Regions from separate parts of the Homo sapiens genome. Here regions 1, 3 and 4 are each linked to region 2. Evidence: fine-mapped expression QTL. A gene starts in region 2. Each other region holds a variant in brackets. All regions are shown on one strand. Distances are from middle to middle.

Evidence for each region. PIP is the estimated chance that this variant, and not a neighbour inherited with it, causes the effect. A credible set is the group of variants that fine-mapping cannot tell apart.
Region 1: its variant is the best candidate, but not a certain one, in a credible set for the expression of ARRDC2 in thyroid (GTEx, PIP 0.56).
Region 3: its variant is the best candidate, but not a certain one, in a credible set for the expression of ARRDC2 in whole blood (TOPMed, PIP 0.52).
Region 4: its variant is the best candidate, but not a certain one, in a credible set for the expression of ARRDC2 in whole blood (INTERVAL, PIP 0.66).

Annotation. Positions count from the first base shown.
Region 1 is chr19:18,026,132-18,033,415 of GRCh38, forward strand. It overlaps the pseudogene CSP3. Among named protein-coding and RNA genes, the nearest start is that of ARRDC2, 22 kb to the left of the region's middle. The variant T/A (reference allele first, on the strand shown) is at 4,053.
Region 2 is chr19:18,004,570-18,011,853 of GRCh38, forward strand. It overlaps ARRDC2 (arrestin domain containing 2), which reads left to right and starts at 3,601. Exons shown (of 8, transcript NM_015683.2): 1 at 3,601-4,015; 2 at 4,142-4,208; 3 at 4,402-4,549; 4 at 5,023-5,125; 5 at 5,214-5,470; 6 at 5,627-5,789; 7 at 6,003-6,160. The coding sequence starts at 3,742. RefSeq lists an enhancer at 3,655-3,874.
Region 3 is chr19:17,949,699-17,956,982 of GRCh38, forward strand. It overlaps a transcript of KCNN1 not described here. Among named protein-coding and RNA genes, the nearest start is that of KCNN1, 14 kb to the right of the region's middle. RefSeq lists enhancers at 1,509-2,127, 2,128-2,745, 2,746-3,363 and a silencer at 2,509-2,558. The variant C/T (reference allele first, on the strand shown) is at 3,452.
Region 4 is chr19:17,983,722-17,991,005 of GRCh38, forward strand. KCNN1 (potassium calcium-activated channel subfamily N member 1) reads left to right here. Exons shown (of 10, transcript NM_001386974.1): 5 at 1,591-1,732; 6 at 4,694-4,804; 7 at 5,995-6,122. Among named protein-coding and RNA genes, the nearest start is that of KCNN1, 20 kb to the left of the region's middle. RefSeq lists enhancers at 659-1,340, 4,307-4,808, 4,809-5,308. The variant G/T (reference allele first, on the strand shown) is at 3,089.

The DNA of each region.
Region 1 (7,284 bases), 22 kb after region 2:
TTTTTGTATTTTTTTGTAGAGACAGGGTTTCACCGTGTTAGCCAGGATGGTCTCAATCTCCTGACCTCGTGATCTGCCCGCCTCGGTCTCCCAAAGTGCTGGGATTACAGGCGTGAGCCACCGCGCCCAGCCTAATTTTTGTGTTTTTAGTAGAGACGGGGTTTCAACATGTTGGCCAGGCTGGTCTTGAACTCCTGACCTCCAGTGATCCACCCACCTCAGCCTCCCAAAGTGCTAGGATTACAGGTGTGAACCACTGTGCTTGGCTCCTTTCACCTCTTTCACAAAAGCTGCCCTATTCTCCCTCTCAGTTCCTTCCAATTCCTTGCTTTGCCTTTCTCACAGTTTGTGATTACAATGTATTGACAGGTTCACGGCCTGTCTTCCACCTCCCCTCGGTACTGGGAGCTCCAAGAGGGCGGGTCATAGCATGCAGTAGGTGCTCAATAAATTTACTGGCTGGGTGTGGTGGCTCATGCCTGTATAAAGCACTTTGGGAGGCTGAGATGGGAGGATCCCTTGAGGCCAGGACTTTGAGACCAGCCTGAGCAACATGGTGAAGCCCCATCTCTACTAAAAATAAAAATAAAAAAAATTAGCCAGGCATGGTGGCACACACCTGTAGTCCTAGCTACTGGGGAGACTGAGGTGGGAGGATTGTTTGAGCCCAGGAGGTTGAGGCTGCAGTGAGCCGTGATTGCACCACTGCACTCCAGCAGAATGGGACCCTATCTCTAAAATAAATAAATAATATAAAAATAAATGCAGTATGCTAAATGAGAGTGCCTGCACAAGATGCAGAGAGCCAGGAATGGGGAGGTGGAAGACAAGGGCCCTCCCTCAGTAGCTGCTCAATTAGTGTATGATGGATTAATGAAGCTCAGAGTAAGACCTTGACCCACTGGTCCTGGACTCCTAAAGAGGAGTCTTCTGGCCTCATCCCTAGCCTCCTGGCCCCAGATCACACTGTGTGAGCAGCCCCTGGAGCCTGCTTGGCAGGGGAGGAACAGAAGTCCCTGCTCAGTTATTTGCACACTGGCTTCTCCCACGAAGTCCTAACATCGCAACTTCAAGTGCCCTTTCCTTTCAGACCCCAGGCCTGGAAAGGTCTTTATTTTGGCCACCTCAGCCCATTGCATGGAAGGGATATCCAAGGTCAGAAGCAATCCCGTCCCTGTGTCCAGGTTGAGCATGTCCCTCCTCTGCTCACACACCCTCCGTGGCTCCCTATTACCCTCAGGAGAAAGTCCAGCTCCTCAGCTCAGCAGTCACAGTCCAGCCTGAGTGTGGCAAGATCATTTTTCCTTTGTCTAATTCTCAGTCACTCTTTGGGTCTCATCTTGGTTATGTTTCCCAGTATTGACCATTGACACAGTCCCAGGACACACTAACTGCTGTCAGAAACCAAATGTTCATTGCATTAATCTTGTCAGAACATCAGGCTGAATACGACTTTTATTGTTGTTGTTAAGAGACTGTGTCTGGCTCTTTCACCCAGGCTGGAGTACAGTGGTGCAATCATGGTTCACTGCAGCCTCAACCTCCGGGCTCAAGCGATCCTCCCACCTTAGCCTCCCGAGTAGCTGGGACTACGCACACTACCACACTCAGCTAATTTATTTATTTTTTATAGAGATGAGGTCTCACTCTGTCGCCCAAGTTGGAGTGCAGTGGTACAGTCATGGCTCACGCAGCCTCGACCTCTGGGCTCATGCGATCCTCCTACCTCAGTCTCCTGAGTAGCTGGGACTACAGGCACACAGCACCACACCTGGCTAAGTTTTTTTTTTTTTAATTTTTTGTAGAGACAGGTCTCACCATGTTGACCAGCCTGGTCTCGAACTCCTGGACTCAAACGATTCCTCCCCACTCTGCCTCCCAACGTGTTGGATTACAGGCATGAGCCGCCACGCCCATTAGGATATGACTTTTTTTGTTTGTTGTTTTGTTTTTTGAGACGGAGTTTCGCTCTTGTTGCCCAGGCTGGAGTGCAATGGCACGATCTCAGCTCACTGCAACCTCCGCCTCCTGGGTTCAAGTGATTCTCCTGTCTCAGCCTCCCTAGTAGCTGGGATTACAGGCATGTGCCACCACACCCATCTAATTTTGTATTTATTTTTAATAGAGATGGGGTTTCTCCATGTTGATCAGGCTGGTCTCAAAGTCCCGACCTTGGCCTCCCAAAGTGCTGGGATTACAGGCGTGAGCCACCATGCCCGGTCTAGGATATGACTTTTACAGAGTAAAAAGACTCACAGTTTGCATTGCATGTGACCACTGTGGACCATTGACTATTAACAGAGTATTAAATTCAATATAAAGAACAGTGACTGCCCAAGAGCTTAGATCAGGAATAGGCAAACATTTTCTATAAAGGGCCAGATAGGAAATATTTGAAGCTTTGCCGGCTACACAGTCTCTTTTGCAATTACTCTACGCTGCGGCTGTTTGAAAGCATTCATATACACAAATAAGTGAGCATGGCTGTATCCCAGGAAAACTTTGTTCATGGACACTCAAGTGTGAATTTCATGTAATTTTCACATGTCATCAAATAGTCTTCCTCTGGTAGTTTTTCAGTCATTTTAAAATGTAGGCCAGGTATGGTGGTTCTTGCCTGTAATCCCAGTGCTTGGGGAAGCTGAAGTGAGAGGACCGTTTGAGGCCAGGAGTTCAAGACCAGCCTGGGCAACATAGGGAGACCCCCTCCTCCATCCTTACAAAAAGTTTTAAAAATTAGCTGGGATGCCTGTAGTCTCAGCTATTCAGTAGGCTGAGGTGGGAGGATCACTTAAGCCTGGGAGTTCGAAGCTGCAGTGAGCTATGATCCCGCCACTGCATTCTAGCTTGGGTGACTGAGAGAGATCTTGTCTCTAAAAAAAAGGAGGGAGCCAGGGCCGGTCATGGAGACCATCCTGGCCAACATGGTGAAACCCTGTCTCCACTGAAAATACAAGAAAGAAAGTAAAAAAAAAAAAAAACCCAAACTAGCTGGGCGTGGTGGCAGGCGCCTATAATCCCAGCTACTCGGGAGGGTGAGGCAGGAGAATCGCTTGAACCCAGGAGGTGGAGGTTGCAGTGAACCGAGATGAAGGCACTGCATTCCAGCCTGGGGGATAAGAGTGAAACCCATCTCAAAAAAAAAAAAAAAAAAAGGAGCCAGGAGCGGTGGCTCACACCTATAATCCCAGCAGCACTTTGGGAGGCTGGGGCAGGCGGATCACTTGAGACCAGGAGTTCTAGACCAGCCTGGCCAACATGGTGAAACCCTGTCTCTACTAAAAATACAGTAATTATCTGGGTGTGGTCCCAGCTACTCGGGAGGCTGAGGTGGGAGATTAGCTTGAACCTGGGAGGCAGAGGTTGCAGTGAGCCGAGATTACGCTGCTGCATTCCAGCCTGGGCGACAGAGTGAGACTCTGTCTCAAAAAAAAAAAAAAAAAAAAAAACGGAAAAAAAATTGAATACTGTTTTGGGGTCATGGTTAAAGCTGAAGTTTACCAACCCCTGATGGGTCATAAGTGTCATGATTTGTGTTTACAGAGTATCAGAACTTTGTTTAAAGTTACCAGCTGATAAAATATGAGGACAGGTTTATGGCTAACAGGGTTTCATCATTGACAGATAGCAAGTATCAGGATTAGTCTTTTTTCACAAAGTATCAGAACACAGCAAGCTCTGATGGCTAATCAGGTGTCAGAACCTGGGTTTAAGTCCAACCCTGCCTTGGGGCCCACGGCACCGCGGTAACCACCAACTACTGTCCACTCTCAGGATACTGTTTACTAAGTATCGAGTGACAGGCTGATGGCAAAGTATCGGGTCATGGATGTCACACTGTGAGTTGGGCACTGTGACAGCGTCTCTAGATGCCAGCTGTTTACAGTGACAGGAGACTGGCTGTTTACAGGGGATGAGTCAGCCCCACTTCCAGATACCCAAGTCCAGATGGCGGGTAGGATTGGCACCTCTCCAGGTGTTTACAGGGTACTGAGGTCCTGGCAAGCTGGGCTTCTCTCCTGCGGCCACCTCTAGCCAGGGTGGGGAATGAG[T/A]CCCCTGAAGGCTGTGGGACCCATGATCCTGGTTAGATTCTCCTTCTGCTTGTCCCTGGCTGTGCTGCCTCAGGCACATTACTTAACCTTTCTGGGCCTCTGCCACCTCATCTGTAAAATGGGCATGATGGTGAAGCCAGGTTGCCAGATAAAATATAGGCTACTCAGCTAAATGTGAAGTTCAGATCAATATTGAATTTGGTTTTACTGTAAGTATATCCCATGCAACATTTGGGATATACTTATACTAAAAAAAAATTATTCATTGATGCTATGGTTTGAATGGTCCCCCAAAGTTCATATGTTTGAAACTTAATCCTCAAAGCAGTCCTTTCAACCTTGTCAACCTGTCGGCGCGGCCTCTGGTGCAGTGGCGGCGGCTCCTGTTCCTGCCGCAGCTCTCTCCCCTTCTTACCTCCCCACCAGATCCCGGAGATCGCCCGCCATGGCTTTACTTACTGCGGCCGCCCGGCTCTTGGGAACCAAGAATGCATCTTGTCTTGTTCTTGCAGCCCAGCATGCCAGTGCTTCCTCCATGAATTTGAAAGACATATTGGCTGACCTCATACCTAAGGAGCAGGCCAGAATTAAGACCTTCAGGCAGCAACATGGCAAGAAGGTGGTGGGCCAAATCACTGTGGACATGATGTATGGTGGCATGAGAGGCATGAAGGGATTGGTCTATGAAACATCAGTTCTTGATCCTGATGAGGGCATCCGTTTCTGAGGCTTTAGTATCCCTGAATGCCAGAAACTGCTACCCAAGGCTAAGGGTGGGGAAGAACCCCTGCCTGAGGGCTTATTTTGGCTGCTGGTAACTGGATGTATCCCAACAGAGGAACAGGTATCTTGGCTCTCAAAAGAGTGGGCAAAGAGGGCAGCTCTGCCTTCCCATGTGGTCACCATGCTGGACAACTTTCCCACCAATCTACACCCCATGTCTCAGCTCAGTGCAGCTGTTACAGCCCTCAACAGTGAAAGTAACTTTGCCCAAGCATATGCACGGGGTATCAGCCGAACCAAGTACTGGGAGTTGATTTATGAAGACTCTGTGGATCTAATCACAAAGCTACCTTGTGTCGCAGCAAAGATCTACCGAAATCTCTATGGAGAAGGCAGTGGTATTGGGGCCATTGACTCTAACCTGGACTGGTCTCACAGTTTCACCAACATGTTAGGCTATACTGATCATCAGTTCCCTGAGCTCATGCACCTGTACCTCACTATCCACAGTGACCATGAGGGCGGCAATGTAAGTGCCCATACCAGCCACTTGGTGGGCAGTGGCCTTTCAGACCCTTACCTGTCCTTTGCAGCAGCCATGAACGGGCTGGCAGGGCCTCTCCATGGACTGGCAAATCAGGAAGTGCTTGTCTGGCTAACACAGCTGCAGAAGGAAGTTGGCAAAGATGTGTCAGATGAGAAGTTATGAGACTACATCTGGAACACACTCAACTCAGGACGGGCTGTTCCAGGCTATGGCCATGCAGTACTAAGGAAGACTGATCCACGATATACCTGTCAGCGAGAGTTTGCTCTGAAACACCTGCCTAATGACCCCATGTTTAAGTTGGTTGCTCAGCTATGCAAGATTGTGCCCAATGTCCTCTTAGAGCAGGGTAAGGCCAAGAATCCTTGGCCCAATGTAGATGCTCACAGTGGGGTGCTGCTCCAGTATTATGGCATGATGGAGATGAATTACTACACAGTCCTGTTTGGGGTGTCACGAGCATTGGGTGTACTGGCACAGCTCATCTGGAGCCGAGCCTTAGGCTTCCCTCTAGAAAGGCCCAAGTCCATGAGCACAGAGGGTCTGATGAAGTTTGTGGACTCTAAGTCAGGGTAAAACTGGAGACTGGGGGAAAGTGACTACCAGAAAGTGAGGAAGCCTAAATAAAAAGTATACTTTTGTTTCAGGGGGCCTTTAAAGACTTAAGATTAAATTATATCTGAGGCACTGATAATATGTTTGAGGTTAAAATATAAATTAAGACTTTAAAAGATGAAAAATGGTCCCTTCTTCCCTAATCAGCTCCTTTCCCCTGCCTGGTATGAGTTGCCCATCACAGGCATGGTCCTGGAGGATGACCAGGACTAATGCATGTGGTATGAGTAGGTTTGGCCCCCTCACTATCTCTAGAGTGAGAATCTGGCTCCTGTTTCCATGGCTCAAAGCCGGTTGCAGAGAATCTGCAGTCACTTCGGAGCTTTAGCTTCTTCTCTGCCAAGCCCTCAATAAGCCAGCAAACCAGGACTCTGCCCCTTCTGTTTCCATAGGAATCATGTTGGATAGTCAGCTGTACCAAGCCCCTTGGCCTTCCCATGCACACAAACACCTCCTAGCAAGACCTGTTGGTTAGCTGGACATGCTTTGGCAATTTTTTTATACTGCCAAGTGACCATAAAGGCATGGCATTTGTTGTGACTGGCACCCAATGTTTGATTTTTTTTTTAAACTATCCAATTAAAATTAAGGTCTGGGAGTGTTCTGTTTCCCATTACTTTAATACTCACCCCCCTCCCAGACTTTCTACACCTGTTTCACCTCAGGCTGAGGATGTTCTGGACCTCCCCCTCTTAGTCCCTACTAGAGACCTCTCAACAGATCTGTGGGCCCAGTCATTGGGTTTTATCAGTGCTTAATGTGAACTAAGTTTTTTACTTCCAACAGAATACAAGCCACTACCTTCTGACCTCCCCACCCCCCACCAACCCCCAGCTTTTAATATGCTGTGGGGCATAGAACAGGGACTCCGGAATGACCAGCATGATATTTTCAGAGTCTTGTCCCTGGGGTATTAGCACCTCTTTTTGAACAGAGAATTGATTCAAGATTGGACATGGTCTCCTCTGATTATCAGGTACTGGGGCTGAGGGCATTAAAAATAGTAAGCCTCCTTCCTCGTCCCCTGCCTCAAGAAATTGCCTCCTTATTTATCAACATCTTTTTCCTCCCTTTCCCTGAGAGCTCACAGTACAATGTTTGTTTCAGAAGCCCCATTTGCACAGGTTTTCAGCAACTCAGAATGCTCTACTTCTTTTTCTTTGAGAAAGGATTGAGATACGCTCCTGCTGTGCCCCCATCTTTCCTCCAAACTCCTGCCTGTGTTTGTGTGGATACCCAGTCCCAGAACCACACTGTTGAGTTGGACACACTGTAAACCCCTGGCTAACTGTCAAGTCATGATGCAGACTTCAGGTTGTTCTGTATAAAATGCAAAATAAATGTTTT
Region 2 (7,284 bases):
TCCCAGCTACTCAGGGGGCTAAGGCAGGAGAATCGCTGGAACCCGGAAGGTGGAGGTTGCAGTGAGCCAAGATGGTGCCACTGCACTACAGCCTGGGTGTCAGAGCAGAGTGAGACCCTGTCTCAAAAAAAAAAAAAATTAAAATTTTGGCTGGGTGCAGTGGCTCACACCTGTAATCCCAGCACTTTGGGAGGCTGAGGCGGGCAGATCGCTTGAGCTCAAGAGTTCAAGACCAGCCTGGGCAACATGGTGAAACCCCATCTTTACAAAAAATACAAAAATTAGCGGGGCATGGTGGTACACACCTGTAATCCCGGCTACTCGGGAGGCTGAGGTGGAAGGGAGGCAGAGGTTGCAGTGAACCTAGATCGCGCCACTGCACTCCAGCCTGGGCAACAGAGTGAGATCCTGTCTCAAAAAAAAAAAGAAAAGCAAATTTAAAAAAAATTTTTTTTTTTTAATTGATCATTCTTGGGTGTTTCTTGCAGAGGGGGATTTGGCAGGGTCATAGGACAATAGTGGAGGGAAGGTCAGCAGATAAACAGGTGAACAAAGGTCTCTGGTTTTCCTAGGCAGAGTGTTTGTGTCCCTGGGTACTTGAGATTAGGGAGTGGTGATGACTCTTAACGAGCATGCTGCCTTCAAGCATCTGTTTAACAAAGCACATCTTGCACCACCCTTAATCCATTTAACCCTGAGTGGACACAGCACATGTTTCAGAGAGCACAGGGTTGGGGGTAGGGTCACCGATCAACAGGATCACAAAGCAGAAGAATTTTTCTTAGTACAGAACAAAATGAAAAGTCTCCCATGTCTACCTCTTTCTACACAGACACGGCAACCATCCGATTTCTCAATCTTTTCCCCACCTTTCCCCCCTTTCTATTCCACAAAACCGCCATTGTCATCATGGCCCGTTCTCAATGAGCTGTTGGGTACACCTCCCAGACGGGGTGGTGGCCGGGCAGAGGGGCTCCTCACTTCCCAGTAGGGGCGGCCGGGCAGAGGTGCCCCCTCACCTCCCGGACGGGGCGGCTGGCCGGGTGGGGGGCTGACCCCCCGACCTCCCTCCCGGACGGGGCGGCTGGCCGGGCAGGGGGCTGACCCCCCCACCTCCCTCCCGGATGGGGCGGCTGGCTGGGTGGGGGGCTGACCCCCCGCCTCCCTCCCAGACGGGGCGACTGGCTTGGCGGGGGCTGACCCCCCACCTCCCTCCTGGACGGGGTGGCTGCCGGGCGGAGAAGCTCCTCACTTCCCAGACGGGGTGGCAGCCGGGCGGAGGGGCTCCTCACTTCTCAGACGGGGCGGCTGCCGGGCGGAGGGGCTCCTCACTTCTCAGACGGGGCGGCCGGGCAGAGACGCTCCTCACCTCCCAGACGGGGTCGCGGCCGGGCCGAGGCTCTCCTCACATCCCAGACGGGGCGGCGGGGCAGAGGCGCTCCCCACATCTCAGACGATGGGCGGCCGGGCAGAGACGCTCCTCACTTCGTAGATGGGATGGCGGCCGGGAAGAGGCGCTCCTCACTTCCTAGGTGGGATGGCGGCCGGGCAGAGACGCTCCTCACTTTCCAGACTGGGCAGCCAGGCAGAGGGGCTCCTCACATCCCAGACGATGGGCGGTCAGGCAGAGACGCTCCTCACTTCCCAGACGGGGTGGCGGCCGGGCAGAGGCTGCAATCTCGGCACTTTGGGAGGCCAAGGCAGGCGGCTGGGAGGTGGAGGTTGTAGCGAGCCGAGATCACGCCACTGCACTCCAGCCTGGGCACCATTGAGCACTGAGTTAACGAGACTCTGTCTGCAATCCCGGCACCTCGGGAGGCTGAGGCTGGTGGATCACTCGAGGTTAGGAGCTGGAGACCAGCCGGGCCAACACAGCGAAACCCCTTCTCCACCAAAAAAACCAGTCAGGCGTGGCGGCGCGCGCCTGCAATCGCAGGCACTCGGCAGGCTGAGACAGGAGAATCAGGCAGGGAGGTTGCAGTGAGCCGAGATGGCAGCAGCACAGTCCAGCTTCTGCTCGGCATGAGAGGGAGACCGTGGAAAGAGAGGGAGAGGGAGACCAAGGGGAGAGGGAGAGGGAGAGGGAGCTTAAAAATTGTTAAATTGTTATACATTTAAGGAAAAAACAGTGACACTGGAGGGGCGAGGCCAGTGGAGGTGCTGTGTGACCTCGGGCAGAGCCCCACCCATCTCTGGGCCTTTGGGGTCCGTCTGCGAAATGAATTGAGGGAGGCGCTGGCTCAGTAGTCCCTTCAGGGTTACCTAATCCCGCTTCTCCTCCCGGACTTAACGGCCTACTGTCTCCCCTCTAGTATCCATTGAAACCTGGCCTAAGGTCCCAGACCTTCCTTTCAACTCCAAAGACCCATCCTCCCAGGCAGCCTTCCAGGCTGATCACTGTGCCTCCAACTCCGTCGTTCCTGTTCCGATCCCCATCACGGGCTGAGGGTGACCGTGTTTGTTTATGACCGCCCCCTCCACCCACACACCTCACTGAGGTGGTGGAAGTCTCCTGAGCCAGGCTCAGAGGCGGACAGTCACGGCAGGGGATGGGTTCAGCGGCAGCGCATTACGCTGCCACGAGAGGGCGCCAGCGTCCCGCAGACGACGCAGAGGCAACTCCCGCTGGAGAAACTCCATGCGACTTTTCTTTGGGGAAACTGAAGCCCAGAGAGAGGTCACGCCGTCCCGTGGCCACACCGCAGCTGTGGACCTGGGGGTGCCCGAGCGTCCCCTGCATTCAGCTCTGTGGCGGGACGGGGGCTGAGGATGACTGGAGCAGGCACAAGGGCTGCGGGGAAGGTAGGGTTTGCCAGAGGCTGAAAATTGGGAAGGGAACATCATTTCGTAGGTACCGCTCCTGGGCGAATGCGCCGAGGCGCGACCGAGTGACGGTATGTCAAGAGCAGGTTGATGACCCGGGAGCGAGGCTCTTGGAGGAGTCCAGCTGGGGCTGCACGATGATCCATGCACAACCTTCTGAGGTCAGGACTGATTTTTACTTTCTCCCGGCTCTACAGAGGTGGAAACTGAGGCTCCAAGAGGTTGTCATTTGCCCAGAGCCACCAGCTAAGCGGGACTTGAATCAGGAAAGGGGTGCAGCAGGCACCAGTGTGGAGGGCGGTCCCACCCACCTCCTCCACTTCTCCCTTTGCATAGCGGGGGAAACAGGCCTGGAACAGTCATAGGCTCTCTGGCCCTCAACTGGGGCGAGAGTCCCCCGCCCCAAATCGGGCTGGACATGCCTCGAGTCACGTCAACGAGGGGCGGCTGGTGAGTGATTAAGCCGAGAGGCTGAAGGCTCTGCTAGGTGACCTCAGGCCTGGGCCCTGCCTCTGCACCTCTTTTTTTCCTCTTTACCCCCGGGGTCCGCGAGAGACCAGCTCTGGCAGCCTAAGGGCTTCAGTTTCTCCCCGGGGTCCGCGAGGGAAGGGGGCAGCCGGCGGTGAGCAGGGGCGTTTGTTATTTTGCTCCACGCCTGGGCAGAGCCACGCCCCTTGTCGCGCTATTGGTGGAGTCCCTTCCCGGGGCGGGGAAGAGACGGTGACCCCACCCCCCCCCGCCCTGCCGTATAAAAGCGGCGCCGACGCACGGCGCGGGGATTTTCTGCTCCGGTTGGTGAGCGCGCCTGCGCGTTGACGGCGATTTTGCGTTCTGAGGCTGCAGCGTCGGCATCTTGAGCTGCCGGTTCGCGAGTTCGAGGCCAGGTTCCGCCTGTCGTGGGTTCGCACCCCGGACGCGATGCTATTCGACAAGGTGAAAGCGTTCTCGGTGCAGTTGGACGGCGCGACCGCGGGCGTCGAGCCCGTGTTTAGCGGCGGCCAGGCCGTGGCGGGCCGGGTGCTGCTGGAGCTGTCAAGCGCCGCGCGTGTGGGTGCCCTGAGGCTGCGCGCGCGGGGCCGCGCCCACGTGCACTGGACCGAGTCGCGCAGCGCGGGCTCGAGCACGGCTTACACGCAGAGCTACAGTGAACGCGTGGAGGTCGTGAGCCACCGCGCCACGCTCCTGGCGCCAGGTACGGATGGAGGACCCCTGCTCCAACACCAGTTGTGTGCCTCCCACCACCTGGACGGCGGTACCTCCGTCAGCCCTGGGACCCCAGCGCAACCGCTCAGTCGCCTCCTTTTTCTCCTACCTGCAGATACCGGGGAGACCACGACGCTGCCTCCTGGGCGCCATGAGTTCCTGTTCAGCTTCCAGCTGCCCCCGTAAGTCCTCTGGGGTGCAGGGTTGCCCTAAGCCTGCAGCCCCTTCCAGATTGGTACCTCCAATACTGGATATCTGGGCACCTCTGAGCCCCAAGACTCTCCCCCTGGGAGGCCCCCGGAGTGTCTGTGTCTCCTTCTCCCTGCCTGCTTGTCTCTGTATCTTGTCCCCTGAAGTCCCGTCCCTCCACCCTAGGACCCTGGTGACATCCTTCGAGGGCAAACACGGTAGTGTCCGCTACTGTATCAAGGCCACCCTGCACCGGCCCTGGGTCCCAGCACGCCGGGCAAGGAAGGTGTTCACTGTCATCGAGCCTGTGGACATCAACACGCCAGCCCTGCTGGTGAGTGGCCACCCTTGGGGAGGTAGGTTGGGAGTATTGTAGGAAGGGGCCTGCCTGGCTGCTGGGCGACACCAACCAATAAGATGGAGGTCATAGGTGGGCCCTGGCAGGGAGGGAGGCAGGTGTGGGAATGCGTGTGGAATCCACTGGGATCTGCACCCATTTGCCGTGTGACTCTGGGCAAGTGTCTTGAAGCCCTCTCTGAGCCTCAGATGCCTCTTCTGTGAAATAGACCAGAGCTAGGGCTTACCAAGTGTGAATTACACACCAAACACTTGGCTTATACATTTCATTTCTGGCTTTATAAGATGGGTTGTGTTCCTGGCTCTATTTAACGGATAGTTCCTGGATTGTTAAAAAGAAACCAAGCCCTGCCCAAAGTCCTCCCTCAGCTGGGGGTGGTTTGGAAGCTCCACAGCGACTGTGGTTTGCACAAAGTGACTCATCCATGTCACTTTCCTCTACACCGACAGGCACCTCAAGCGGGGGCTCGGGAAAAGGTTGCCCGATCCTGGTACTGTAACCGTGGCCTAGTCTCCCTTTCGGCCAAGATCGACCGCAAGGGCTACACCCCAGGTAGCAGGCGGACCGGACTGGGTTGGGACGGGGGCTGGTGTTGGGGTTGCAGGAGGGGAAACTGAGGCCCCACTGCTCCTTGCTGCAGGAGAGGTCATCCCTGTCTTTGCCGAGATCGACAACGGCTCCACACGTCCTGTGCTGCCTCGGGCAGCCGTGGTGCAGACACAGACGTTCATGGCCCGAGGCGCCCGAAAGCAGAAACGGGCAGTGGTGGCCAGCCTCGCGGGCGAGCCGGTGGGCCCCGGGCAGCGGGCGCTGTGGCAGGGCCGGGCACTGCGGATCCCCCCAGTGGGTCCTTCCATCCTGCACTGCCGCGTTCTACACGTGGACTACGCACTCAAGGTAGGGCATCCTGCTGGCCCTGGGGGACAGTGCCTACATTCACCCTGTATTCCCTCAGACTGGGGGAAGCTGAGGCCTCAGTCTCCCCAGGCATAGGAGGGAGGTGGGGGTTGGGGAGGCTGCCTGGGCACCCTCCCTTATGGTTCCTTCCTCCAGGTCTGTGTGGATATCCCAGGAACGTCCAAGCTGCTGCTGGAGCTGCCACTGGTGATCGGCACCATTCCCTTGCACCCTTTTGGCAGCCGTTCCTCCAGCGTGGGCAGCCACGCCAGCTTCCTGCTGGACTGGAGGCTGGGGGCCTTGCCGGAGCGGCCTGAGGGTAAGCTCCCACCCTGCTTGCATGCAGAGGGTGGGTGGATACACGGAGAGGTGGATGCCGGGTCAACTCTCTCACCACGAGTCCCCCGGAATCCCAACCAAAGGACATACAGCCTGGCAGCCCCAGAGCTGGCACAAGCCAGCTCCTGGCCCCTGGTCCCTTGGAGCAGGGCTCTCTCCTGCCAACCTCACCCACCCTGTCTCTCGCTTCCAGCTCCTCCTGAGTACTCGGAGGTGGTAGCCGACACTGAGGAGGCAGCCTTGGGGCAGAGCCCCTTCCCGCTTCCGCAGGACCCCGACATGAGCCTTGAAGGCCCGTTCTTCGCCTACATCCAAGAGTTCCGCTACCGCCCGCCACCCCTGTACTCTGAGGTGAGCTCAGGGGTCTGAGAACCACCCATGCCTCTCTGGGCCCTGGGAGCCTTGATGGGGTGGCAGACATAGTAGATGGGTTTTTTTTGTTTTTTTGTTTTTTTAGACAGGGTCTTGCTCTGTCACCCAGGCTGGAGTGCAGTGGCATAATCATAGCTCACTGCAGCCTCGACCTCCCGGGCTCAAGCAATCCTTTCGCCTCAGCCTCTTGAGTAGCTGGGACTACAGGCACACGCCACCACATCCTGCTAATTTTTGTGTTTTGTTTTGTTTTGCTTTGCTTTTTGAGATGGAGTTTCAGTCTTGTCACCCAGGCTGGAGTGCAATGGTGCGATCTCAGCTCACTTCAACTTCCGCATCCCTGGTAGAGCGATTCTCCTGCCTCAGCCTTCCGAGTAGCTGGGATTACAGGTGTTAGCCACCACACGTGGCTAATTTTTGTATTTTTAGTAGAGACGGGGTTTCACCATGTTGGTCAGGCTGGTCTTGAACTCCTGACCTCAGGTGATGGCCTGCCTCGGCATCCCAAAGTGCTGGGATTATATGCGTGAGCTACCACGCCCGGCCAATTTTTGTATTTTTTGTAGAAATGTGGTCTCACTGTGTTGCCCAGGCTGGTCTTGAACTCCTGGGCTCAAATGATCCTCCCATCTTGGCCTCCCCAAAGTGCTGGGATTACAGGCGTCAGCCACTGTGCCCGGCTGGCAGAGGATTTTAATTGTTGACAGAATTTCGCTACATACAGTCGGCCCTCTGCGTTAGCTGGTTTGGAATCTGCAGATTCAACCAAACATGGGTCAGAGACATTTGAAAAATAAATACATACATGGATAATACAGATTAAAAATATGATAGGCTGGGTGCGGTGGCTCATGCCTGTAATCCCAGCACTTTGAGAGGCCAAGATGGGAGGACTGCTTGAGGCCAGAAGTATAAGACCAACCTGGGTAACATAGCAAGACCCCCATCTCTACTGCAAATAATACAAAATTACCCAGGCTTGGTGGAGCCCATCTATGATTGGGAGGCTGAGGCAGGAGGATCGCTTGAGCCCAGGAGTTTGAGGCTGCAGTGAGCAATGATTGTGCTACTACATACTCCAGTCTGGGAGACAAAACAAGACC
Region 3 (7,284 bases), 55 kb before region 2:
CCCCCAGCGTCTCCCCCAACACTTCCCCAACTTGCCACGTTCGCTTCTTTTACTTATTCGCCATCGGAACGGTGGAACATTTGCGCCTCCGGCCTGGCTTCTGCTCAACCGGCCAGGAGCTCGGTCCCTGCGGATCATTTTCCCCAGGGGCATATTATTCCGGAAACGGGCTAAGCGGTCCCGGGTTGGGGACACGTCGGCTCCTGTGTTTTTAGTTTCGCTGGCCTAGGTGACCCCCCTGCAGAAGACGGCTGTGGATCTGCTGTGCCGTGTCTTGGAGGCATTTCTAGGGCGGCTAGCTGGGCAAAGGGTGGTGCTGTCCCTTTATTTGGAGCTAGGTAGCTCCTGGGGTGGTGCTGGGTCGGGAGCGGCCCTCTCCTCCCATCAGCTAGGACCAAGTTGCACCTGGCCCCTCATTCCCAGGGGCGGAGAGAGGAGAAGATGAAAGAGCAAGCAAGTTCACACCAGGGCTTGAGGGCAGTGAGAACAGTAAACCAGGGCGACGTGCCCAGAGAAGGGGCGACTCTAGGGAAGAGGCGACCTTGGATGGAGCCCTGAAGAGCCCTGTGGGAACAGGGGGTGAGGAGAGCCAGGGAAGGGCGATCCCGGCCCAAGAAACCGCAGATGCAAAGGCTCTGAGGCTGAACCGGTTAGGGGGAGAAGCTGGGCGTGTCCAGAATGTGGTGGGCGGTCCAGGGAGACCGCGGAGGGATTGGAACAAAGGGTGGGCGTTGTGGGGGGCAGACCGCGTCGGCCTGTGAGGAGTCAGGGTGCTCCTCTTGGTTCAAGAAGAGAAGGGAGGTGGGGGGAGGGCGGTCATGCGGGACAGGGACGTGACCTGTCACACGGGTGAGGACTGAAGTCTGTGGCTGCGTCAGGGAGAAGGACTGTGGCGGGGACAGGAGGAGCCGCGGGAGTGGGGAGGATTTTCGGGCTCCACTGGGCGATTGTGGGGTCCACGGGGCGTGGGGGAATCCCCTGATCATGGGTGTCCTTGTCACTTCTGCAGCCTGACTCTCCTTCACTGTGTCTGACTAAAGCATGGGTCGCAGCCTTCCCCAACAGGGGCGGGAAGTCCCCCCCGGGGAGGGTGTTGGGTGGCACCCCTTGTCCTCGGCTCCTGCGAACCCACCGGCTCTCTGCCTCCACAGTGCAGACCCGAAGGCCTCCTCCCCTTTGTTCTTTTTCCCTCCACACGGTCACGGTCACACCGGCGGCTCCCTCTGAGCGCATCTCACACACAATGGGGGTGGGGGGTGCGCTCCCAGTTTCCCCTCCTCTCAGTATCGGCGTCCCCGAGCCCCGCCCGCGCCACGGAATCCCGGCCTCCAGACCCCGCCCGGGAAGCTCGTTACCTTTCCAGAGAGGCTCCCCGCCGGGGGGCTGGGGAGGGGGGAGGGCTATTTTTAGAATGAATGGAAGAAAAGAGAGGAAAAAAAACAAAAAACAAAAACCAGAATGGAGGTTTGTAGAAGCCTCCCTGCTTCCAAGAGGAACCCCCCTCCCTGTCCCCTGCCTGAAGGTGGCTGAAGGTCCCCACCAAGGCTGAAGGTGGGTGGGGGTTCAGAGACGGGGCGGAGCAGGGGACTTCGAGGAGGAACACGGTGGTCTGAGCTGGAGCCACGCTTTCTGTTGGAGGGGGCAGCTGAAGGAGAACAGCAAGACATATCCGGCGGCCCTACGGACTCGGAGAGCTGGAGGGACCCCGGAGGTGGGCACTTGTCCGTTCGCTGAAGGGAAACTGAGGCTCAGAAAGGGGCTTGGCAGGGCCGAGGTCACGGAAAGGGCTTGCCCCTGGACTTCTCCCTCCCATCCCCTACCGAGCCAGACCCCGCGAGCCACATTGTTCTAAGGTGGCAGAGTGACCTTCACAACTCTGCCACCCAAGCCCGGGCCAGTCAGGCTCAAGAGGTTCCTAATCGCGCAGGTTGGGGGGAGGGTGTCACCAGCCCAACAATGAAATAGAGAAGTTTTCTGTGGTTTGGTTCTGGCCACCCAGGCTCCCCCTTCCTAGCTGGGACCTTCCAGCCCGGTCAACGTCGCCAGCTGCCCGAAGCCTCTGGGTCCCCCGATCCTCCCCAGTGGCGTGGTGGGGAGGCTTTAATTGTCTGCCTTCCTCTCTCCCTGACTCTCTTCTTTCCCGGAGCTGAGAGAGCGGCCCCCCAGAGTGAGGGGAGCAGCCCTGTTCCGTGCTGCTGGGACACTGGGCCCTGGCCAGGGGCTTCCGCTCTCCGGGCCTCAGTTTCCCCGTCTGTAAGATGAGCACCTTGGGCCAGAGGCGGCAGAGGGTCCTCCCATCTCTTTGACCGTCTTCTAAGATTTGCTGTCACGCCCCTGGGTGGAGGGGGGAGAGTGGGCTTTGGCGAGAGACCTGGAGGGGGATTCCATCCCTGCTTTAGAGGAGACGCCTTGCGGGGGGGAGGGCCCCGGCTGTGGCCGCGACGGACTGCCTCCCTCGGCCTGCGGGGTCCGCGCCCCCTCCCCGGGCGGCGGGGCGGGGCCCAGGTCGGCGGGGAGGGGGTCGGCTCTGCGGCGGCGCGCGCACACCCTCCCGGCTCACACGCCCTTGCCCGGCCGTGCACTTGTCTTCGCGCTCGGGCAGGGCGCAGGGACTCCGGCTGCGGCGGCCGACTCCGGCCGGTGAGTGGCAGTGGGGGGCACGGCGGGGAGCGTTCGGTCCCGGCGGCGGTCCCCTTCTCTTTGGTGGGCGGATTGGTCAAAGCTTGCCCGACTCCGGGAATTCAAAGGGGAGCTGCGGGAGGAGGGGGACATCCCTTCTTCAACCCCCGCCTCCAACACCGATCCCGGGAGTCAGCTCCTGACCCCACCCCCATGCCCTGTGAGGAGGGGGTTCCTGCTTCCAGGTCTGGGGAAGCGCAGACATCCCCCTCCCTCCGCGAGGTGAAGGTGGGGACATGGGGATCCTCCACGCCTGCACCCTCCTCAGTGGTGGGGGGAAAGCACCGCTGGTTCCCGTTGCCCCCTCCTCCCTCTCTGTCCCCTCAGGTTTCTCCCTTTCTCCTTGCGTTGTGGCGGGGATTCCCTGTGCTGGCCAGGCTGCGCAGTAGGAGGGAACCCCCCACCTGCCAGCCTACTGTGCGCTGGGCTCCGGGTTCCTGTTCTTTTCCCTAAGCTCCCTCCCTTCCCCCCTCCCCTCTCCCGGACAGGAGGAGGGGCTGAGGCCCAGAGAGGGTTACCACTCGCCCAAGGTCACCCAGCTGGGCTGGGGCAGAGCAGGTTTCTGGTCAGATCCACGAATCCCGGGACCCAGCTGGGGAGGTCAGCTTTGGGATCCTCTGCCCCCGCCGCCGTTTAACCCTGAGCGTGGGTTGCCAGGGCCCCAGAACTGGGGGGATTCCTTACTTTCTCCAAGTTTCTCCTCTGGCTAGAGACCCAGACAGGACTGAGCCAAGAAGCCCCGGCCTCGCTCTCTTCCGGGGCTCCCAGATCT[C/T]ACCTCCTCTTGTCCCCCGTGTGCCCCCGCTCCCAGCCTCCTCAGGCTGCCCAAGACCTCATCAAAGGAAATCCCTGGGGGGAGGGGGCTTATAGATGGGGAAGTCAAAGCTTCTGGAGCCACGGAGGAGATAATTTTTACTCCGACGCAGCAACCCGCTGAGTGACCTTGGACAAGGCCCTGCCCTCCCAAGGCTAGGGTCAGCACCAAGTCCCCCTGGCTGGAACAGGTGGCCCCTGAGCCATCCAAGGTGACCATTGCCCCGATCCCAGGTCCTGGTGAGAGAAAGGGCAGCTGGGGGTTTCCCCTTCAGTCCTGTTCTGGGGTCTGGCATTGCCCCTGCCCTCCATGGGGTGTCCTTTTCTGCCCTCTTCTCCAGGATCGGACTTGGGTACCATGTGCTTCTATAAGCCCTCTGCAGACAGCACTAAATAGATGGAGGGAGCACGCCAAGGGAGCTACAGGCTCCCAGGGCAGCTTCAGAGCTGGGGAGCAAGAGTTCAGCTGCTCTGCCAAGCGAGGTGGTTCACAACTGTAATCCCAACACTTTGGAAGGGCGAGGCAAGCTCAGGAGTTCGAGACCAGCCTGGGCAACGTACTGAAACCCTGTCTCTACAAAAAATTAAAAAAATTAGCCAGGTGTAGTGGTGCACACTTGTAGTCCAAGCTACTTGGGGGCCGAAGGTGGGAGGATCGCTTGAGCCCGGGAAGTCAAGGCTGCAGTGAGCCATGTTCATGCGACTGCACTCCAGCCTGGGTGACAAAATGTCACCTCCCTGAATGTCACCCACCTAGATCTCCCCATGGCGAAGGAACTAGGGGCAATGTGAGGGGGTGAGCAGGAACAGCATTGGGAAAGACAGATAAAGCATTCAGTGTCTAGCTTCTGGAGCCCAGTGAAAGGAGGAGTGGCCTTAGGGAGGGGACATGGAAGAGGTGGGGCTAGCCCAGGGCCCCATTGGAGTGATAAAGCCACTGTTCTTAAGCTTCCTGAAAGCTTAGGAGATGACCCAGCTCAGCAACACCAAGCCAGAGCGCAGATCTGCTGTAAAGACCATTGTACGTAATAGGCTGAAGCAGGTGAATCACCTCTGGCCAGGAGTTCAAGTCCAGCCTGGCCAACACAGCAAAACCCCATCTCTACTAAAAATACAAAAAGTAGCCGGGCATGGTGGCAGGCACCTGTAATCCCAGATGCTTGGGAGGCTGAGGCAGGAGAATTGTTTGAACCCTGGAGGCGGCAGTTGCAGTGAGCTGAGATCACATCACTACACTCCAGCCTGGGTGACAGAGCAAGACTCTGTCTCAAAAAAATAAAAAATAAGAAAGACCACTGTAGTCCGGGAGCTGTCTGCACCCTACTCTTTTGGGTCCCCGCCTCCACCCCGCACCCCCTGTCTGATCATTACAGATCTCAAAGGGACAGGAAAGGCAGCAGCAGCCACCCTCTCTCCCAGTCAAGTGGTCACCAGCAGGACTGAAGGGGACAGCCCCTTTGCAGTGGCTCGGCGAGGAGACCCCTGCACCCTAGGGTGAGTGAATCCCAGACTTGGGTCGCCTTTGGGGGTGGGGGTGGCTCAGGGGTTGGATAGAAAAATTGGTAACTGGGCAGGCTAGGTGGCTCACGCCTGTAATCCCAGCACTTTGGGAGGCTGAGGCAGGTGGATCACTTGAGGTCAGGAGTTTGAGGCCAGTTTGGCCGACATGGCGAAACCCCGTGTCTACTAAAAATACAAAAATTGCCCGGGGATGGTGGTGGGCACCTGCAATCCTAGCTACTTGGGAGGCTGAGGCAGGAGGACCACTTGAATCCGGGAGGCAGAGGTTGCAGTGAGCCAAGATCGCGCCACTGCACTCCAGCCTGGGCGACAGAGCAAAGCTCTGTTTCAAAAAAAAAAAAAAAAAGGTGACCTGAGGAAAAAGTGCCAGCTTTTGAAATAATAACAAGCTGGGTACAGTGGCGTGCACCTGTGGTCCTAGCTACTCGGAAGGCTAAGGTGGGAGTATCGAGTCCAGGAGTTCGAGGCTGCAGTGAGCTATGATCACGCTTGTGAATGGCCACTGCACTCCAGCCTAGGCGACAGAGCGAGACCCCCATCTCTTTAATTAAAAAAAAAAAAAAGAAAAAAGGCCAGACGTGGTGGCTTACGCTTGTAATCCCAGCACTTTGGGAGGCCAAGGCAGGCAGATCACCTGAGGTCAGGAGTTCGAGACCAGCCTGGCCAACAGGGTGAAACCCCCATCTCTACTAAAAATACAAAATTAGCCAGGCATGGTGCTGCATGCCTGTAATCCCAGCTACTTGGGAGGCTAAGGCAGGAGAATCACTTGAACCCAGGAGGCGGAAGTTGCAGTGAGCCGAGATTGTGCCATTGCACTCCAGCCTGGGCAACAAGAGTGAAACTCCATCTCCAAAAAAAAAAAAAAAAAGAAAGAAAGAAAAAAAATAATAATATAATTATTATTATATCATATATATCATGATGATGATAGCAAGGACTATGCTTTCTAGAGCCTCCGGGGAGTTACTGTCCACTTTCTTTGATCACTGGAGTTGGGGAAACTATTCAGAGAGGCCAGATGACCTAGAAGTGGGGTGTTGAGCCAGGTTGGAAGAGCTCTGTCCCACCACTCCCGCCCCCGCCCCCCACACACAGCCTCTACTTCCCGGCTCTCGTGGTCTCGCTGGAGACAGCCCCCAGGGTAGGCCAGCTCTGTGGAAGGCAGCTCCTGTGCTCCTTTCTCCAGTGAACTTTTTTTTTTTAGTTTTGTTTTGTTTTGTTTTGTTTGTTTGTTTTGAGACAGAGTCTGACTCTGTCGCCCAGGCTGGAGCGCAGTGGCATGATCTTGGCTCACTGCAACCTCCACCCTCCACCCCACCGGGTTCAAGCGATTCTCCTGCTTCAGCCTCCCAAGTAGCTGGGATTACAGGCATGCGTCACCACGCACAGCTAATTTTTGTGTTTTCAGTAGAGATGGGGTTTCCCCATGTTGGCCGGGCTGGTCTCGAACTCCTGACCTCAGGTGATCCACCTGTCTTGGCCTCCCAAAGTGCTGGGATTGCAGGCGTGAGCCACTGAGCCAGGCCTCCTTGGTGAACACTGACTGACATCCAGGGTCAGCACTAAGCTGCCCATGGGGGTGTGGAGAAAACAGAGGTGGTGGTCATTTAGTCAATCAACAAACACTGAGCAAGCTAGCTACTGTCTGCCAGGCCCTAGGCTGGATGCTGGGATGCAATAAGGACAAAGGCCAGCCCAGGTCAGCCCTTGTGGAATTTCATGGGGCATCAATTAAGCTTAAGTGTTTTGTGCTGGATACAGTGGCTGATGCCTGTGATCCCAGAACTTTGGGAGGCCAAGACAGGAGGATCACTTGAGCTCAGGAGCTTGAGACCAGCCTGGGCAATGTAGCAAGAACCCATCTCTACAATTTTTTTTTTTTTAAATTAACCAGTGGGGTGGTGCATGTGTGTGGTCCCAGCTACTCTGGAGGCTGAGATGGGGGGATCACTTGAGCCCAAGAGGTCGAGGATACAGTGGGCTATGATTGAACCACTGTACTGTAGTCTGGGTGACAGTGAGACTCTGTCTCAGAAAGAAAGCGAGAAAGAGAGAAAGGGGGCCAGGTGTGGTGGCTCATGCCTGTAATCCCAGCACTTTGGGAGGCCGAGGTGGGCGGATAATGAGGTCTGGGGATAGAGACCATCCTGCATGGTGAAACCCCGTCTCTACTAAATACAAAAAATTAGCCAGGGGTGATGTCGGGAGTGCCTGTAATCCTAGCTACTCAGGAGGCTGAGGCAGGCAGGAGAATCGCTTGAACCAGGGAGT
Region 4 (7,284 bases), 21 kb before region 2:
CTCCTGGGTGGTCCCGCGGCACCCCCCACCATCGCTCCGTCTGGATCTGGGGCTCACCCACCCACCGACTAGAGGGCACCCCCCCGCCCCTCCTGCCCTCTGGGGGTCAGGCAGCTTGGGGCTCAGATGTTTTGGTGTAAGATGGGGGTCAGTCAGCTGGGCACCGTGGCTCATGCCTGTAATCCCAGCACTTTGGGAGGCCGAGGCGGGTGGATTACCAGGTCAGGAGATTGAGACCATCCTGGCTAACATGGTGAAACCCTGTCTCTACTAAAAATACAAAAAAAAAAAATTAGATGGGCATGGTGGCGGGCGCGTGTAGTCCCAGCTACTCGGGAGGCTGAAGCAGGAGAATCGCTTGAACCCGGGAGGTGTAGGTTGCAGTGAGCCAAGATCATGCCACTACACTCCAGCCTGGGCAACAGAGAGAGATATTGTCTCAAAAAAAAAAAAAGATAGGGTCAGTCCCTGGGCCTTTACCCAGCAAGTGTCCTAGAAGCCCAGACTGGAGGTGCCTGGAGTGGCATTCGACTTCCGCGGGAGTGAAGACCCCCAAATGCCAATATTTGGGGAGCCCCCATCTCCTTCCCTCTGGAGCCTGACCCCAGCCCTATCCTTGGGCTGTGTCACCCACTGTGCCTGGCACAGGCCTCCCCTGAAGATCCTGCTCTATCCAGGCCACTTCCTCGGTGCTACCCCAGTTGGCCTCTGACCTTGAACACCCCAGAGGCTGGCTTGGGGCTCAGGTGATCTAAGCCCTGGGAAGGAGTGGGTTAGCTGGAAGCCAGGTCAGAGGGGGCCCAGTCTCCAGAAAAAGGCCAAGGGGATTTGGGGACTGAGAGCTGAGTGGGAACAGATCCTAGAGCCACCCCCAGACCCAGAGAGCCAAGCCCTCGGCCCGCTAGCATGGCCACAGGCAGAACCTCTTTGCAGCCCCTCTGGCCGAAGTCCCAAGCCTGGCTGTGACCAGGACTAAGTTCTGTCAGTCTTGGGGCCTGTCTCCCTGGGTCCCAAATATAGCCCCAGGCATCTCCCCAGTGCCAAAGCCGATGCCCCTCTCTTCCCAACCCCCAGATGCAACATAGGCTGAGTTGGGGGACTCATGCTGTCCTCCAGTCTATGTCCTTCCTATATGGACGTCCCTTCTTCACTCGAGCCCCAGGTGGTGATCCTCCAGCCTCCCACCTCCTCCAGTCCTCCTCCCTCCTTGGGGCCTTGCTGGCTGAGAAAGTTCTTCCTGGTGTCTGTCCTGAATTCTTGCCTCCACCTCCTGCTGCTTCTGGTGCTGTGGTCACCCATCCCCCTGTCTGTGTGTGTCTGTCGTTGGGAGGGGGATTGTATGTTCATACAACCTCACCTGGGCCCCTCTCTGCCCCATCCAGGGAAGCAGCTTGGGGGGGCAGGCAAAGGGAATGTGGAAGGGCTGTAGCGGGGGAGAGGGTGCGCCTGTCCTGTACCCACAGGACATAGCCCCAACGCAGCGAGGTGGACTCAGGGCCCTCCAGCCCTGGCGCTGCCCCAGGGGGTGTGATGGAGGCAAAGGGGATGGTATAGACTGAGCCCTCCCTCTTCCCACTCTGGCTCCCCCAGGTACCACGACAAGCAGGAAGTGACCAGCAACTTCCTGGGGGCCATGTGGCTGATTTCCATCACCTTCCTCTCCATTGGCTACGGCGACATGGTGCCCCACACCTACTGCGGGAAGGGTGTGTGCCTGCTCACTGGCATCATGGTAAGGGTGAGGGTCCATGTGTATGATCCTGGGAGGTCCAGCCAGCTGCCCGCTCCACCAGCCCTTGCATACCCCTTGCTGACAGGGTGCTCATCCCATCACGAGCTGTGCCTGATCAGCGTCCCTCCATCTGTCAGTCCACCCCTCCCCTGCTCTGCTCTTTTCCTCTGACGTCACGTGGAAGCCACACCCACAGGCTTCCTGGGACATCTCCATGCGGTCCTTCCAGGCCTAGATATGCAGCTCCCACCATGCCTGCCCAGTAAGAAGCTGCGGTCCACTCTGACCAGAGAGTCACTGTCACCCCTTTATTCTCTACAGCCTGATTTATTCACAGCCTTTGGATCCAGGGCAAGGGGCTTGATGCTGATGTGCCTTAGTTTCCTCAGCTGTGACCAGCGCTACTTCCTCTGCTTTGCAAGGGCTAAGTCGGTTATTTATGTGAGAATCCCAGAACTGTGAATGCCATGGACATGCTATAACTACCTGCTGGGGGCCGGGCGTGGTGGCTCATGCCTGTAATCCCAGCACTTTGGGAGGCCAAGGTGGGCAGATCACCTGAGGTTGGGAGTTTGAGATCAGCCTGTGACCAACATGGAGAAACCCTGTCTCTACTAAAAATACAAAAATAGCCGGGAGTGGTGGCTCACACCTGTAATCCCAGTACTTTGGGAGGCCAAGGCGGGTGGATCACGAGGTCAGGAGTTCAAGACCAGCCTGGCCAACGTGGTGAGACCCAGTCTGTACTAAAAATACAAAATTAGCCGGGCGTGGTGGTGGGTGCCTGTAATCCCAGCTACTAGGGAGGCTGAGGCATGAGAATTGCTTGAACCCAGGAGGCAGAGGTTGTGGTGAGCGGAGATCACGTCATTGCACTCCAGCCTGGGCAACCAGAGTGAACTAAGTCTCAAAAAAAAAAAAAAGAAAAAAGAAACCTGCTGGGCTGTGTCCTCTGCAGCCCAAACTCCCTTCCTTAGCTGACTTTCGGGGTGTTCCCTGAGTTTTTCGTGACAGTGGGCGCAGGCAGCACCCCGTCTCCCCGAAGGATTCTCAAGTCTGCCGTGGGTGCCTGTGAACATCCTTTCACACTCACTGCTTTCTCTTTTCCCTAATTCAGTCATCGGGGTCCCTGTCCATCCCCTCTTTCCAGAGCCTTCTTTCTCTCCAGACATGTTTTATGCCCATGCCAACAAACGCTTTTCCATGTTTTATTTTTATGTTTTTATAAAGATGGGGTCTCACTATGTTGCCCAGGCTGGTCATGAACTCCTGGGCTCAAGTGATCCTCCTGCTTGGGCCTCCCAAGGTGCTGGAGTTACAGGCCTAAGCAACTGCACCTGGCCCATGCCTGACTTT[G/T]TTTTTTTCCTCATTGAGATGGAGTCTCACTCTGTTGCCCAGCCTGGAGTGCAACGGCACGATCCCAGCTCACTGCAACCTCCGCCTCCCGGGTTCAAGCCATTCTCCTGCCTCAGCTTCCTGAGTAGCTGGAATTACAGGCGCCTGCCACCAGGCTCGGCTAATTTTTCTATTTTTAGTATAGACAGGGTTTCATCATGCTGGCCAGTCTGGTCTTGAACTCCCAACCTCAGATAATCCACCTGCCTCAGCCTCCCAAGGTGCTGGGATTACAGGCATGACGCCACCACGCTGGCCCTTTTTTTCTTTTTTTTTTTTGAGATAGAGTCTCGCTCTGTCGCCCAGGCTGGAATGCAGTGGCGTGATCTCAGCTCACTGCAACCTTCCCCTCCCAGGTTCAAGCGATTCTCCTGCTTCAGCCTCCTGAGTAGCTGGGATGGCAGGCACCTGCCACCAGGCCCAGCTAATTTTTGTATTTTTAGTACAGACAGGGTTTCACCATGTCGACCAGGCTGGTCTCGAACTCTTGACCTCAGGTGATCCACCCACCTTGGCCTCCCAAAGTGCTGGGATTACAGGTGCAAGCCACTGCACCTGGTCCGTGTCTGCTTTTTTGCTGGCAGCCCAGCATGGGTCCCTCCCTGTAGCATCTGTGTGGTGCATCATGCTGTTGCAGAGCCGTTGTCCATTCCTTTTCCTTGCTGTCTAGTATTCTAGGTGGAGGTTTCCAGCAAGTCACTCTGTCCCAGTTGACAGGGATTTTCCTGAGAACAGGCTTCTGGGTCCTCTCAAAACCTTTGTCCTGGCCTGGAAACCGAGACAGGGTTTCCTCCGGGAGCCCCTGCTTGTGCTCTAGGCCAACCCTGCTCAGGCTCAGGGTGTTGGCATCTAAACCTGCCTGGGGCTGGGCATGGTAATGGCTCATGCCTGTAATCCCAGCACTTTGGGAGGCCGAGGTGGGTGGATCATTTGAGGCCAGGTGTCCGAGACCAGCCTGGGCAACATAGTGAGACCCCATATCGCTACCAAAAAAAAAAAAAAAAAAAAACAGGGCCAGGCGCAGTGGCTTACACCTGTACTCCCAGCACTTTGGGAGGCCAAGGCGGGTGGATCACCTGTCAGGAGTTCGAGACCAGCCTGACCAACATGGTGAAACCCCCCCTTTACTAAACAAACACACACACACACACACACAATTAGCGGGATGTGGTGGTGCACGCTTCTAGTTCCAGCTACTCAGGAGGCTGAGGCAGGAGAATCGCTTGAACCTGGGAAGTGGAGGTTGCAGTCAGCTGAGATTGTGCCACTGCACTCCAGCCTGGGCGACAGAGCGAGACTCCATCTCAAAAAAAAAAAAAAAAAAAAAAAGAATCGTCCTACCTCCTGGAGTTGTTGGGGGTCGAATGAGCTAATGTGTGGGACATGGTTCCCTCTGACATTTGATGAATAGGAAACGAGTAGACCTGAAGTCAGTGAGCTCAGCAGATGGAATCCACTCACACTGCTGGCTCAGAGAATGGGGAGGCTGCAATCTGGGCAGGCTTCCTGGAGGAGGGAGTGACCTCAAGACAGGACGCTGATGTGCCCCCTCTGCCCTGCACACAGGGAGCTGGCTGTACCGCGCTCGTGGTGGCTGTGGTGGCTCGGAAGCTGGAGCTCACCAAGGCTGAGAAGCACGTGCACAACTTCATGATGGACACTCAGCTCACCAAGCGGGTGAGGACCGCGGTTCCCATGGAGGCCGCCTCCTGGCCTTGTCAGCGAGCGTAGAACTTCCCTGCTTTCCCTCTGTACGTGCCGGGCATGCTCATGTGCCCATGGGTTACCATGCAGCCCCGTGTCAAGACTGTGCTGGCTTTGGGAGGCCAAGGCAGGTGGATCACCTAAGGCCAGGAGTTCGAGACCAGCCTGGCCAACATGGCAAAATCCCATCTCTACTAAAAATACAAAAATTAGCCTGGCATGGTGACGGACGCCTGTAGTCCCATCCACTTGGGAGTCTGAGGCAGGAGAATCGCTTGAGCCTGGGAAGCAGAGGCTGCAATAAGCCAAGATGGCACCACTGCACTCGAACCTGGGTGACAGAGCAAGACTCCGTTTAAAAAAAAAAAAAAAAGGACTGTGCTTGGCTCTGCCACCACGCACCCATCTGTGAGTAATGCACAGAGAGACATCGTGGCATCAACCCTTGTGCCCAGTCACGTCCAGCCATGAGCATTCAGTAAGAGGCTTGAGCCAGACCGCCATATGCAATTTGAGAGCTGCCTGACCCTAGCGGGTTGACTGCTCTGTACCTCAGCTTCCCCATATAGAAAATCAGGGAAATAAAAACACATGCCGATTCACTGAGTTAACATCTGCATCATGGCCGGGCGCGGTGGCTCACGCCTGTAATCCCAGCACTTTAGGAGGCCGAGGCGGGCGGATCACTTGAGGTCAGGAGTTCAAAACCAGCCTGGCCAACGTGATGAAACCCCATCTCTAGTAAAAATACAAAAATTAGCTGAGCGTGATCGCAGGCGCCTGTAATCCCAGCTACTAGGGAGAGTGAGGCAGAAGAATCACTTGAACCTGAGAGGTGGAGGTCGCAGTGAGGCAAGATCATGCCACTGCATTCCAGTCTGGGCCACAGAGCCTCAAAAAACAAACAAACAAACAAACAAACAAAAAACATTAAAAACATTTGCATGGTGCATAGAAGGGGCCTGGCCCATCATGAGTGATGTGTGTTAGGTATACACACACTGCACAGATGTTGTTGTACAAGCATGGCCCTGCCTTATAGCCCAGGGACCCTGAGAGGCATTTCCAGAAGTTTCTAGAGGTTTCTGGAAGATTCTAGACATTTCTGGAGCCTTTTGGAATTTCGCGCCAACCCTGAGGAATTGTTCTTTTTCTGGCCCCAGGTAAAAAACGCCGCTGCTAACGTTCTCAGGGAGACGTGGCTCATCTACAAACATACCAGGCTGGTGAAGAAGCCAGACCAAGCCCGGGTTCGGAAACACCAGCGTAAGTTCCTCCAAGCCATCCATCAGTAAGTCCAGCACCTTTCCAGCTCACGTTTCTGTGTCCACATGGCGCGGAGGCAGCCCTCGCAGCTCTGTGTGGCCTCTTCACGGCTCCCTGCCAGGGACGGGTGGTCAGTTGGTTGGGGCCTGCATCTTCTGAGCTGGGTGGATGGGAGGATCTTCAGAGGGAGGCAGATGATGGGGTCTGCTAAATCATGGACACGACTCAGTAAGTGGCAGGATGTATATTTTATTCTCTGGAATAACCAGGATAATTCTTACCCTTTAGACTTTGAAGCGATTTCCTCTTTTTGCTTTGTCTGCCAGGAGGCTCATAGTTAAATCCATGGTCTGATCCATGGGATCATGTAGGATAACTAGAAATGAATTGGGCCAGGTGCGGTGGCTCATGCCTGTAATCCCAGCACTTTGGGAGGCAGGAAGATCGCTTGAGTCCAGGAGTTCAACACCATCCGTGGCAATACAGGGAGACCCCATCTCTACAAAAACTAAGAACTTAACTGGGTGTGGTGGTGTGCCTCTGTGGTCCCAGATACTCGGGAGGCTGAGGTGGAAGGATCACTTGAGTCTGCAGGGTCAAGGCTGCAGTGAGCCATGATTGCGCCACTGCACTCAGCTGGGTTACAAAGTGAGACCTTGTCTCAAAAAAAAAAAAAGAAAGAAAAGAAAAAGAAAAAAAAGGCCGGGCGCGGTGGCTCACGCCTGTAATCCCAGCACTTTGGGAGGCCGAGGTGGGTGGATCACGAGGTCAGGAGATCAAGACCATCCTGGCTAACACAGTGAAACCTCGTCTCTACTAAAAATACAAAAAATTAGCCGGGCGTGGTGGCGGACGCCTGTAGTCCCAGCTACTCGGGAGGCTGAGGCAGGAGAATGGCATGAACCCAGGAGGCGGAGCTCGCAGTAAGCTGAGATTGCGCCGCTGCACTCCAGCCTGGGCGACAGAGTGAGACTCTGTCTCAAAAAAAAAAAAAAAGAAAGAAAAAGAAAAAAAAGAAGAAAGAAATTGCTTGATTCCCTATGTTGTTTCTTTGCCCTGAGAACTATTTAATAAAGTAGCTCTAAATCCTTGGCTGCTCATTGAAGTCACCAGGGGGCTTTTTAAAAATCCCAAGAGCCACATCCAACATCAGTTACTTAGTAGAGTCTGGGTTGCAGTCTGGGTTT